Regions from separate parts of the Homo sapiens genome. Here region 2 is linked to region 1. Evidence: fine-mapped expression QTL. A gene starts in region 1. The other region holds a variant in brackets. All regions are shown on one strand. Distances are from middle to middle. Region 1 holds the start of CPA5 (carboxypeptidase A5). Region 2 holds the start of LOC105375504 (a long non-coding RNA gene).

Region 1 (5,365 bases):
CCTTCCCGATGGAGGTGAGTGGAGGTTGCGTATCCAAGAGGCCTGTGGTGTGGGCTCTGGGGTGCGACACCTGGGATGGGGTTGGTGCCCTCACAGGCTGGCTCTGAGACCGTGGGTGAGGAACCCCATCTCTACGCTCGCTGTGTCTCCTCTTCTCTACTGTGGAGCACTGTGGGGCATCCACCTGTGGACCTTGGAGAGGCTCAAAGTACATCCACAGAGGGCCTGGCGTGTAATACTAGAACTTCCTGTCATTCGAAGGAGAACGACACCCACATCCATTTTTGGTAGGGGTATGTAGTCTTGTGGGGGCTACAACTTCTCTGAGAATCGGAGGAAAGCTATGAATGCATCCTCCCCGAAGAAGCCCCTGTTGTATAGGAAAACTGTTGCATGTGGTTTCAGGGGATTCTTGGAGCCCCGGGGGCTTCCTCCTGGACTCTGGATTAAGAACTCTGGATTTGGGGAGGACCACCAACGAGCCAGCCCCGGAGCATGAAAGTGGGAGGCTGTGGAGCTGGAAGTGGGTTCAGGACAGGAACCCACATCCTGACTCTCCGCCTTGATCAGGCACCAGCAGGGCAGCCACCTCCTGCTGGGACACCCAGTCCCCTCCTCCCAGCCAGTCCTCCCTCCCACTGTGGAGCAGCCACTCACCCTGTGAAATTCATTTGGCCCAAAGCTGCTGCCAGGATAAAGCTGAAGACCAGGAGTGTCCGCCTGTCCACGGGGGATGGCCCAGGGCGCGTCCCGCCTCCAGGGGTGCCCTGCATGCTTCTTCCTCCTGGTGAGCTTCAGGGGCTTTCCTTGGGCACCATGGCCCAGGCCTCAGGACAGCACAGCACCTAGAGGCTGGAAAGCCCAGCCTGAGAAAGAGCATTAGGCTGTCTGGGGCACCCAGCATGTGGCTCCCACATGCCAGGCCTTGGGAGAGCTAGGGCTGCCCCTCCCCAACCCAGCACATCCTCTCCTGGGAAGGGGAGAGGGAAGAGAGAAGGAGGAAGACAGGCCTTAGCTTTTCTTTTCTCTCAGGAGGTTTGCCAGGGCAGCCCCTTGTGAGCATCAAAGCTTCCATCTCTGGAGAAAGACCAAAGTAGCCAGCAGCCCTGGGATACCCCTCCTTTCCTCCCTCCTCTACAGCATCTTCTCTTTCGCTCTTCTTCTCCGCCTAGCCCACTCATGCTTTCCCTGGGCCATATCCTCCTTACACATAAGGTGTGGATGCCATTGAAACACCGCTGGACTTAGAGACAGAGACTGGGTGCTCACTTCCCGTCTAAAATATCTGGGGCAGCTGCCCTAATCTCTAAATCTCAGTTTACTCATCCATCAAATGGGGTTAATCATACCTCCCCTCCCTACCTCACAGGGTTTGAAGGGGTATAGATGAGACAACTTGAGTGAATTGGCTTGGTAAAGCCTGCAAAATGCAATGTATTATTATTCAAAAGGCATTAACTTTTAGTCACAGCTGCATTTGAGATCAGTCCTCCAGTGGCGATGGGGAGAAGGGGAAGAGAAGAGAATGGAGAGGAGAACAAAGGAAATAACTATATATTGTATGAGAAGGAATTCAATCAAGATTCCCTTTTCTCTGTCTTCAGGTGGTCATCATTGTGCTAGCACAGACAGTGGGTTTTCTGCTAGACATGAAGGTCACCGCAGTCATTATTAGAGTTCTCAACAGACAGCAGAGTCAATTTCTCAGTCCTGCTGAAGCCCCACACAGTTCCCTTTATAGTTTGGGAATAGCAGGAGTAAAGCAGGGGCCAGCACACAAAGCAGTCATGTTGGAAGGAGAAAGTGAAAGATGATGCCTGAATGGCAAATGATGAATCTAACAGAAAATCCACAGGGGGTGGGGGTAAGGCAGAAGCTGAATCCAACCAAGTCGTTCAGCAGAGGACGTCAACAATAGGCCACTTAACTGTCACTGGCGATTCTCAGAAGCTCCCCCTCCCCATCCAAACTATCTCAGAATGGCCGATTAACTGGCTATGTGTGCAAAGAAGGGAGCTCGTTTATCGACAGAACGCCCTGCTCCCCCACCCACCTGCCCTACTCCATTATTTCGTAGTTCAGCTGTTCAGACAAGCCAGACTCTTCTAGTATCCTGGCTTCAGGGACTCTCAAACAGTAACATTATCAAAGGGTTTAAGGACATAGAAAAGAAAGCAGTTATGCTTTCCACCCAAGTAACATTCAGCTTCAGTAGCAATGGAGATAAAAGGGTGTACTGCTAAACAATAGCTCAGGAATTTAAAAGGAAAAAAACAGAGATAGTGCTAGTCACCAAAAGTACCCATGGGGCGTCTTCTTGTTCAAAAACATCATTTTAAGCCACCAATGATGAGACAACTATCCCTGTACTTGGCTTAAGGGTGGGAAAAGAGAGAGAGTGAGAGAGAAAGAATAAGAGTAAAAGAGAGAGAGAGAAGCAGTTAGGAAGTTTTGAGAATTCTATGACATAGCTTCCAATAGAACTTTCTGTGATAATGGAAATATTCTATGTCCACACCCCCCAGTAGGATAGCCACTAACCTCTTGAAATGTGGCTATTGTGGTTGAATATTGATTTTGGAGTTGTATTTAACTTTAATTAATTTAAATAAAATTTAAATAGCCACATGTGGCTAATGGCTACCATATTGGACAGCAGAGTTCTCTGGGAATTCACCAACCCTGAAAGCACCATCTCCAATGGCTGGATTTGTTTTTGGTTTTGCTTCTTCTAAGTTCATGTTAGACGGGTAATGTGCTGACGTCATAACAAGGTTTGAGGGTGACACATCTCACACACGCATGCGTGAGCACCCAATTATCATACTTATGAACTGCAATTATCAGCTTATGGCTGGATTTGAAGCGGAGACACATAGCTATGCTTGACCTAATACCTCATTTTGGCTTTTCACTTATAATTAATTACTCACCTAATCATTTACTCAGTAAATGTCCTCTGAATACCTGCTATGTTCCAGGCACTTGCTAAAGTCTGGAAACAAAATAGAAAGCAACACATATCTGGCCCTTACATTTCTAAAGGCGTAAGTAGAAAATTAATTTAAATAGCATGAAGATAATTGGTAAACCCAAGACATAATGGTAGCCCATCTCACTCCAGATAAGTGTAAAACTATAGATGGTGTTTGTGTTACAAGGGAAAGGCACATTGTACCATGAGGACGGGGAACATGGGCTCCACATAGACTGAAGGAGAGTTTCCCTAAATTAGAAATTTTTTTGGAGGACTTTTATTTCCTGCAGGTGGGGTGGGTTAGATACCTAAGCAATCTTGCCCAAATGAAAGAACTCAAATGCAGAAGAAAATATTTTTAGTAACAACTTTCTAAAGCCATTGCTGGGTTGGCACAAAAATAAGAATCTATAGATCCCAAAAAGAAGGAAAAGCCAGACAGACACCCAAGTGGTAAGCAAGTTTTGCCTCAGAGAACTTCTCAGAATGCTGGTGTTCTTGATTTTCCTACTGGATGCATGTACCATGTATCTAGAATCATCTTCCCTCTGCTTCAAATCTATCTTTTCAAACCTTCCTTTAGTTAAGGTTTCTGTTTTTACTTATTTGAAAATTTTTGGCCAGGTATGGCAGCTCACATCTGTAATCCCAGTGCTTTGGGAGGCCAAGGCAGGAGGAGCCCAGGAGTTCGCTTGAGCCCAGGAGTCCGAGACCAGCCTGGGCAAGTCAGGGAGACCCTATCTCTGCAAAAATAAAATAAAATTAGCTGGGCATGGTGAGGCACGCATCTGTAGTCCTAGCTACTCGGGAAGCAAGCAAGCAGATCAACTGAGCCCAGGACTTTGAGGCTGCAGAGAACCATACTCCAGCCTGGGTGACAGAACAAAAACCTATCTCAAAAAAAAAAAAAAGAAAAAAAGAAAAAGAAAAGAAATAAGGAAGGGAGGGAGGGAGGAAGAGAGGGAGGGAGGGAGAGAGGGAGGGAGCGAGGAAGGAAGGAAGGAAGGAAGGACAGACAGAAAAAAAAAGAAAGGAGAGAGGGAAAGAGAAAGAAAGGAAAAAAAAGAATAAAGAAAGAAGAAAGAAAAAAGAGAAAGAAAGAAAGAAAGAAAGAGAAGAAAGAAGGAAAGAAAAAGAAAGAAAAGAAGAAAGAAGAAGGAAGGAAGGAAGAAAGAAAGAAAGAAGAAGAAAGAAAGAAAGAAAGAGAAAAAGAAAGAAAGAAAGAAAGAATTATTTTGCTCTCATTCTTGAAAGGGTTTTTTGGGATAGAAATTCCAAGTTGATTACTGTTTTCCTCTCAACACATTGAAAATATTATCCCACAGTCTTCTGGCTTCCATTTTTGCTGCTAAAAGGTAATGTTTGTTGACTTACTGTTCTTCAGAAGGTGACCTCTCTTTGTTCCTGGTTTCTTTGAAGAGCTTCTCTTTGCTTTTGATGTTCCACAGTTTTATCATCGTAAGTCCAGGTATGGATTTTTTTTGTTTTGTCTTGCTTGAGAATCATTTGAATTCCTGTATCTGAGTGTCACTCGCTTTCTATTATTTTCCAAATTTCTCAGCCATTATATTTTTAAACATTGCCCCTTTTCCTCTCTATTACCTTCATCTGGAACTTTTGACTGGACCTCCTCATTCTAGCCCCCAAGACTCATAAGCATTCTGCTATATTTCCATTGTGTGGTCTCTCTGGGCTACATTCTGGATAATTTATTAGTAAAAAATATTTTTGTCTTTATTCCAGTTACCTGATTCTTCATTGGCTGAGTTTAATCTGCAATTTAATTGATCTGTGAAGTTTTACCTTTCAATTGCTACGGTTCATTGATTCTGCAACCTATTTTTTTCACATTTTTAACACTGCTAAAATCAGGATACATCTTACAATTGGTGGCATCTTGCAATGCTAAGGTGGCACATAAAATTATGGTGCATCTTATAAAATTGATCCTGTTTTATAGTCAATGCAATATGATATTCATTTTTCATTTTTGGAAGTTCTATTTGATTCTTTTTTTCTGATTCAAGCCCAAATGACTTGAATTTCTTATCTATTTTAGAATTTCTTATTTCTTTAAACGTATAAGACAGATATTTTATATTCTGTGTTAGATAATTACAATTCCTAGATGTTTTAAGTCTGTTTCTGCTGCCTATTCTTTCCGCTGGTTCTCACTCATGGTGCATTTTCTCTCATGCCACATACCTGTGAACCAATCATTTTCCTTGAACATTTATCTGTGAGAATCCCTTGAGGCCTGGGTTGAAGGTGGGTTCTTCCAGAAAAGATTTGCGTTTACTTCTGTAAGTTGCTGGGGACACTACCAACCTGCGACCACTCTAAATTAAATAATTTAAGATTTTTTTGGGGGACTGCATAGTTAGCATA
Region 2 (5,317 bases), 25 kb before region 1:
TGGAGAAACCCTGTCTCTACTAAAAATACAAAATTAGCCAGGCGTGGTGGCACATGCCTGTAATCCCAGCTACTCGGGAGGCTGAGGCAGGAGAATCACTTGAACCCGGGAGGCAGAGGTTGTGGTGAGCCAAGATCGCACCATGGGCAACAAGAACAAAACTCCGTCTCAAAAAAAAAAAAAGAAGACCTCCATCTGGACAGCAGTTTCAGCCTCAACTTTTGTGAGCTTAATGGCTGTACAGAGATCTGGCCAAGCTGGCTGTGAGAACAAGTTCCTCATCCCTGATCCTGCAGAGCCTTGGCCGTGAGTTGGGTTCAGGTTCTGAAGGCAGATGATGAGCTACCAGCCTGCAGGTCAGCCCAAACCCTGCCACTCAGGACCTGTGTGCCTTTCAGCAACCATCCTGTCTGAGCCTGAGTCACCTCCTTGGCTGAAAATAAGGACAGTAATAGTCCTGCCTCTGAGAGCTGTGAGGAGGCGACATGTTGAAACCCCTAATGCACTTGGCACCGTGCCTGGCACATTGTAAGTGCTAGAAAAGAGTTTATTTCGGCTTGGGAAGCTCATCAGAGCCCAAGGCCTCCTGCCCCTAGGCCAGTTCTTGTCCAATTTGGCATTCAAATCTCCTAGGCCCCACCCACTAGAGACTTGGATTTAGTAGGGCTGGGACTAAGCTCCCAGGTGATGTGATGCCTGTGGTCTGCAGACCACACTGCTTTAGGCTAGGGCCAAGGCAGCCCCCAGGAAGTACTCTAGAGAATGACTGGCCTCCCTCTGTGGCAGCCACCTCCAGCCCCAGTGGACAATGGCAGAGTGGGGAGACCCAAGGCCCAACTCCCCCCGGAAGACTGGAATATATTCTTCCCGGGAGGCAGGGGAACAGGGGTCAGTGGGTATTTGAAGATACCTCAGAACTCCTTGGGCAGTTGGTAAAAATGCAGATTTGGGGTGTCTGCCCCCAGATATTCTAATTCGGTCTGGAGATGGAACCAAATCCCTTCCTGTTAAACAAGTCTCCACGGATTCTGCTGCAGATGGGCCACCGGCTGCACTTGGACAAATGGTGACAGTGGTTTTGGAGTTTGACAAACCCAAGTTCAAATCTTTCTCAACAATTTTCTCTCCATTGTGGCCTTGTATGGCTTTTGAAACATCTCCGAACCTTGCTTTCCTTATCTAAAACAATGAACTTATTAATACCAGGAATACCCTCCCCAAGAGGATGAAATAAAAATAAAAATATTTGTATCGACAGCATAAAAGTTATAATCACAGACTCCACTGTGCAAAGGTATAACTGGCTTTATTTACCTCTAGCTTATATTAACTTAGCCCATGACCTCGAATTTCCACTAGCAGCAGAAAACTTTGGGTTGGAAATTCTAGCTCACTCAGACCAATTCCAGCTTTAAAAAAAAAAAGTCTCCTGTGGGAAACTTCAGCCAAAGTCAAGATTTTCTCCTCCTCTGCTGCTGGCTGTTCCCCTGAAGATGATCTGGGTTGTTCAGGGGTTAATTACCCTCACTTCCTCAGGGCTTCTATGTGGCACAGCTGGCCTTGGGCATCTGCATGCCCAGCCAATGCCCAGCCAGTGCCTGCTGTGCCACCATGACCACTGGCTGCACAGCCCCAGGTTTGGCCTTCTGGCCTCTATCCTAGGCCTCCTCACCTGCCAACCTTGTTTCTTTGCTCAGAGCTCTCCACAGCTGCACCAGCCCCATGGCTGCCTCTAATCCTCTGTCTAGTCTCCTTCTTCGGCCATTAGTCATTTGCTGCTTAGACACTATATTGGATATGAACCTTACTTGGGGTTTTGATCATCTCCCATCCCCTTCTTCTACCAAATGGCCCAAGCACTATCTCCTTTCACAGGCTGAATGGAAAGGGAGGCTAAGTTCATATACACTAGAGATAAATAAAGCAAGTTATGCCTTTACACAGTGGAGTCTGTGATGATAACTTTTATGCCTTCTACACAAATATTTTTGTTTCACTCTGTTTTCTTCCCTGTCTCCGTGCCCTCCAGGGGTTGGCTCTTGGCCATCCAGTTTTACACACACACACACGGACACACACACGCACATGCACACACGTGCACACACATGCACACACACACACGCACACACACAAACACACACACAGCCTGGCTCTTGCAAATGCAAGTCTTGCTCTCACGACTAATGTTTCTGCCTCAGACTTACACAACCTCATTTGGCTCTTCCTGTTTCTAGGGGTTATCTGCCTTCCTGAGGGCAGAGCAAACAGCCCTGCTATCCCTGCTGCATAGTACAGCCTGCCAGTCCCATCATTTCCCAGAAGGCAGCAGACAGAATGAAGAGGCAAAAGGTACAAGGAGGCCTGGGGCTGGGGGAAGGAGTCTTCTTAGTATCTCACGAGTGCCCCTTTAACTCTCTTAGGGGAAGTGCCTACTTAACACAGCTCAGGGATGACAACCAGGATGGTGTCGCTGATGATGATGATGAGAAGCTCTTCTTCCTGGATATGCGGTGCTTTGATGTGCTGGCTCTGACTAGCTCTGACCCTGTGTTCCCAAGACCCAGGGAGCCTTTGAGGACACCTCGGGGGGAGCAGGTCATAAGCCAATGACTCATTCGTGTTGGGTTGTGGGGTGAGTGGTAACCTCCAAAATGTGCTCCTGCTCCCTCCCTGCATGGGAAGTGAAGCCAACCGAGGCAGAGGTGGCCTGTCTGGGCCAACCTTTCCCTCAAGGTGGCAGAAATGCCCCCATCAGAAATGCTCTTTTAGAGCAAACATTGTCCCCTCCAGGAGCATCTTAAAATGTAAATATGCTGGGACAATGTGTGCCTTCTGTGTTCCGGGCCCTGAAAACACTGCAAGAGGAGAAAAGCTACAGCCTCTACCCCCTTATTTTCCTGAAGGTAGACTGGAGAGTGCAGAGGCTTCCCCCACATTTCAGGCTCCCCTGCGGAATGAGAAGCAGCCTCTCGTCCCCTTGTCAGTGCTGAGCCCATAGGGGTGGTAGCCAACACGAGAGGCAGCGAAGCCTGTTCAAACTTGTATTTATTTTCTAAGAGGTCGGGATGAGGGCATGGGGATGGGGATGCATAACTTGGGTTTCGGGAGGAGCCACAGACCTTGGGGAGAAGGATGGAGCCTCCTGCCCTCAGTCGTGCTGCTAGTAGGGGTGATTCAGGGTGTGCTCCATGATGGTCCGAAGCGCCATCCACGTCTCCTGGGCCGTGGGGATGATCTGTGTGGCCGGCAGCAGGAAGCCATACTGCCCAGTGTCCCGGAGCTCAAAGCTGAAGGCGTACTTGATGCCACTGTCATAGGCCCAGTCGACGGTGATCCCAC[T/C]GGCCACATCTAGAAACAAAAGTTCCAAAATGTGCCCCACAAAAGGAAGAAGGGGATGTGGCTGCAAGGTACAGAGGCATCCTGGGTGGAAAGTGAGCCCTGGGAGCCAAACCCCCACCCACCCCAGGCCACACCAGGCTTCCTGCCCAGGCCTCAAACAGGATCACATCTGTGCACCCAGCCCATTCTCTACTCCTGCAAAAAGAAAGCTCCTGCAGGCTACTAGGCTTAGGAACCTTGCAGTAAGCCAGGCACTGGGAGCTGTGCACAAAAGCTGCCAAGAAACAGCTCCCTGGGTACCACTGTTCACCCTTCTATCCAGTGTGGGAGGCAGCTTTGGGCCAGCACAGCTAGATCCTTGGCACTGCCCTGCAGCCAGCCCCAGGTAGATGTGGTGTCTGAAGCAGGGCCAGGGGAGGCTCACTCACAGAGGGTGGTGCTGATGCTGCCAAAAATGTACTCGATCCCATGGACCTTATACAAGGCCTCCACCGCATCCTTGGCAAGATCGTACTGCAAGATGACATTGGCGGGGTGAAAGGCAGGGGCTCCCCGGGGCTCCCACACACTCCCCCACCCTCACCAGCTGGTGAGAAGCATGGATTTAGCAGTCCTGGAAGTTGAAGGTGGAGATGGCCCTTGTGAGAAGGGAGCACAGCATTTCCAGCTTTGAACTTGATCACACGTGAGAACAGCAAGCTCCCCCTACCCCACCCCCGCACCATGGGGTCAATCAGCCCAGACCCCTGCATTCAGAGTAACAACCTGAGCCCTCTGGGAGTATGACAGATATGGATTTTCCTGTGAAGCGGTCTCTTCTCCCCAGGCCCTAAGCAGCCAGTCTCACCAACTCCCTCTGATTTGAAACGGGCTCCAGCAATCGGCCGTAAGGGTACATAAGCATCTGAGAGTAGCTGTGGATGGAGATCAGAGCCTTGAAGTTGCCATGGGCTGTGATGAAGTTCACTATGGCAGCCACCTCCGGCTCCGACTGAGGGGAGGGCCCGTGATAAGTTTCTGAGCAGGGGTTGCTGTTAGAACCATTTCCTGGAAGTAAAATAAAGCCACCCAAAGAGTCAAATCCCCACGTGCGACACAGACGGTGCTCACAAAATACCTGTGTGTTCCCCTACATTTCCCAGCCTCCTTTGCAGTATGACTGAGGTCATGTGACTACTTTGACCAATGGAAAGGTGAGCAGAAATGACACGGCACTTCTGGGTTGAGATTGTTAAGAGCAAGTGTGACTTCTCCATGCTCTTTTCTGTCTGTGTGGCTGGAAGCAAAAAAAAAAAATTCTAGATAGAAACAGCCTCCTGGATCCCTCTCTCACTGCGGAAGAAAGCCGCCAAGGAGAGTCACCTGTTCATGTTGGACTTTGTGTGCATGAAAAACAAACTTTCATTGTGTTAAACCACTGAGATTGGGATGGATATTTGTTACTGCTGCATCCTCTAATCTAATATGTCAGAGGACTGCAGCCGCACCATACCCTGCAGTTCTGAAGCCCTGCAGGGAGCCCCCTCGGCTTGTCCTGTGGTCCCTTTAGGAAGGTGGGCCTGGCTCAGAAGTTGCATCCAGAGGAAACTGTAAGTCTCTGCCCCAACCCTGGCTTCCCCTAGTGAGCAGCAAATGCCTTTAGGCTGACCGTTCCTGGGTGTGCCATCAGTTGAGGGCTCAGACTCGGTGTCAGCTGAAGCTTTGCCACAGCCATGGCCCCAGGTGCGCCATGAACTTGGGGTCTGGGGATATGGGAAACCAATACGGGAGAATAGTTCCCCATAGTTGCCTGAGGCTGTTCTGGGAGCCAGAGGTGCAAAGAAGTCTTTGAAAATTCTTCTTGGGGACTTAAGATGAGGGAGAGAACAAAGAGGAGCAGGGCTTTTATTCTTTTCCCAAGTTTCATTTGTTTCCATTTCCCCCTGGACTCTTTGCCTTCGCCCCATCTCTGTCTTCCTCTTCTGCTCCTCCTCTGCTT

What was found.
Region 2: its variant is fine-mapped to the expression of CPA5 in whole blood (TOPMed, PIP above 0.99).

What each region holds. Positions count from the first base shown.
Region 1 is chr7:130,341,894-130,347,258 of GRCh38, reverse strand. It overlaps CPA5 (carboxypeptidase A5), which reads right to left and starts at 2,443. Exons shown (of 13, transcript NM_080385.5): 1 at 2,054-2,443; 2 at 1,363-1,420; 3 at 658-866. The coding sequence starts at 773. The region is part of intron 1 of LOC105375503 (a long non-coding RNA gene); the gene reads left to right. It overlaps LOC124901837 (small nucleolar RNA U13), which reads right to left and starts at 2,844; the gene lies at 2,741-2,844. RefSeq lists an enhancer at 282-1,251.
Region 2 is chr7:130,366,441-130,371,757 of GRCh38, reverse strand. It overlaps CPA5 (carboxypeptidase A5), which reads right to left. Exons shown (of 13, transcript NM_080385.5): 11 at 4,187-4,386; 12 at 3,768-3,852; 13 at 3,028-3,348. The coding sequence ends at 3,161. It overlaps LOC105375504 (a long non-coding RNA gene), which reads left to right and starts at 4,631. Exons shown (of 2, transcript NR_133928.1): 1 at 4,631-4,928. The variant T/C (reference allele first, on the strand shown) is at 3,340.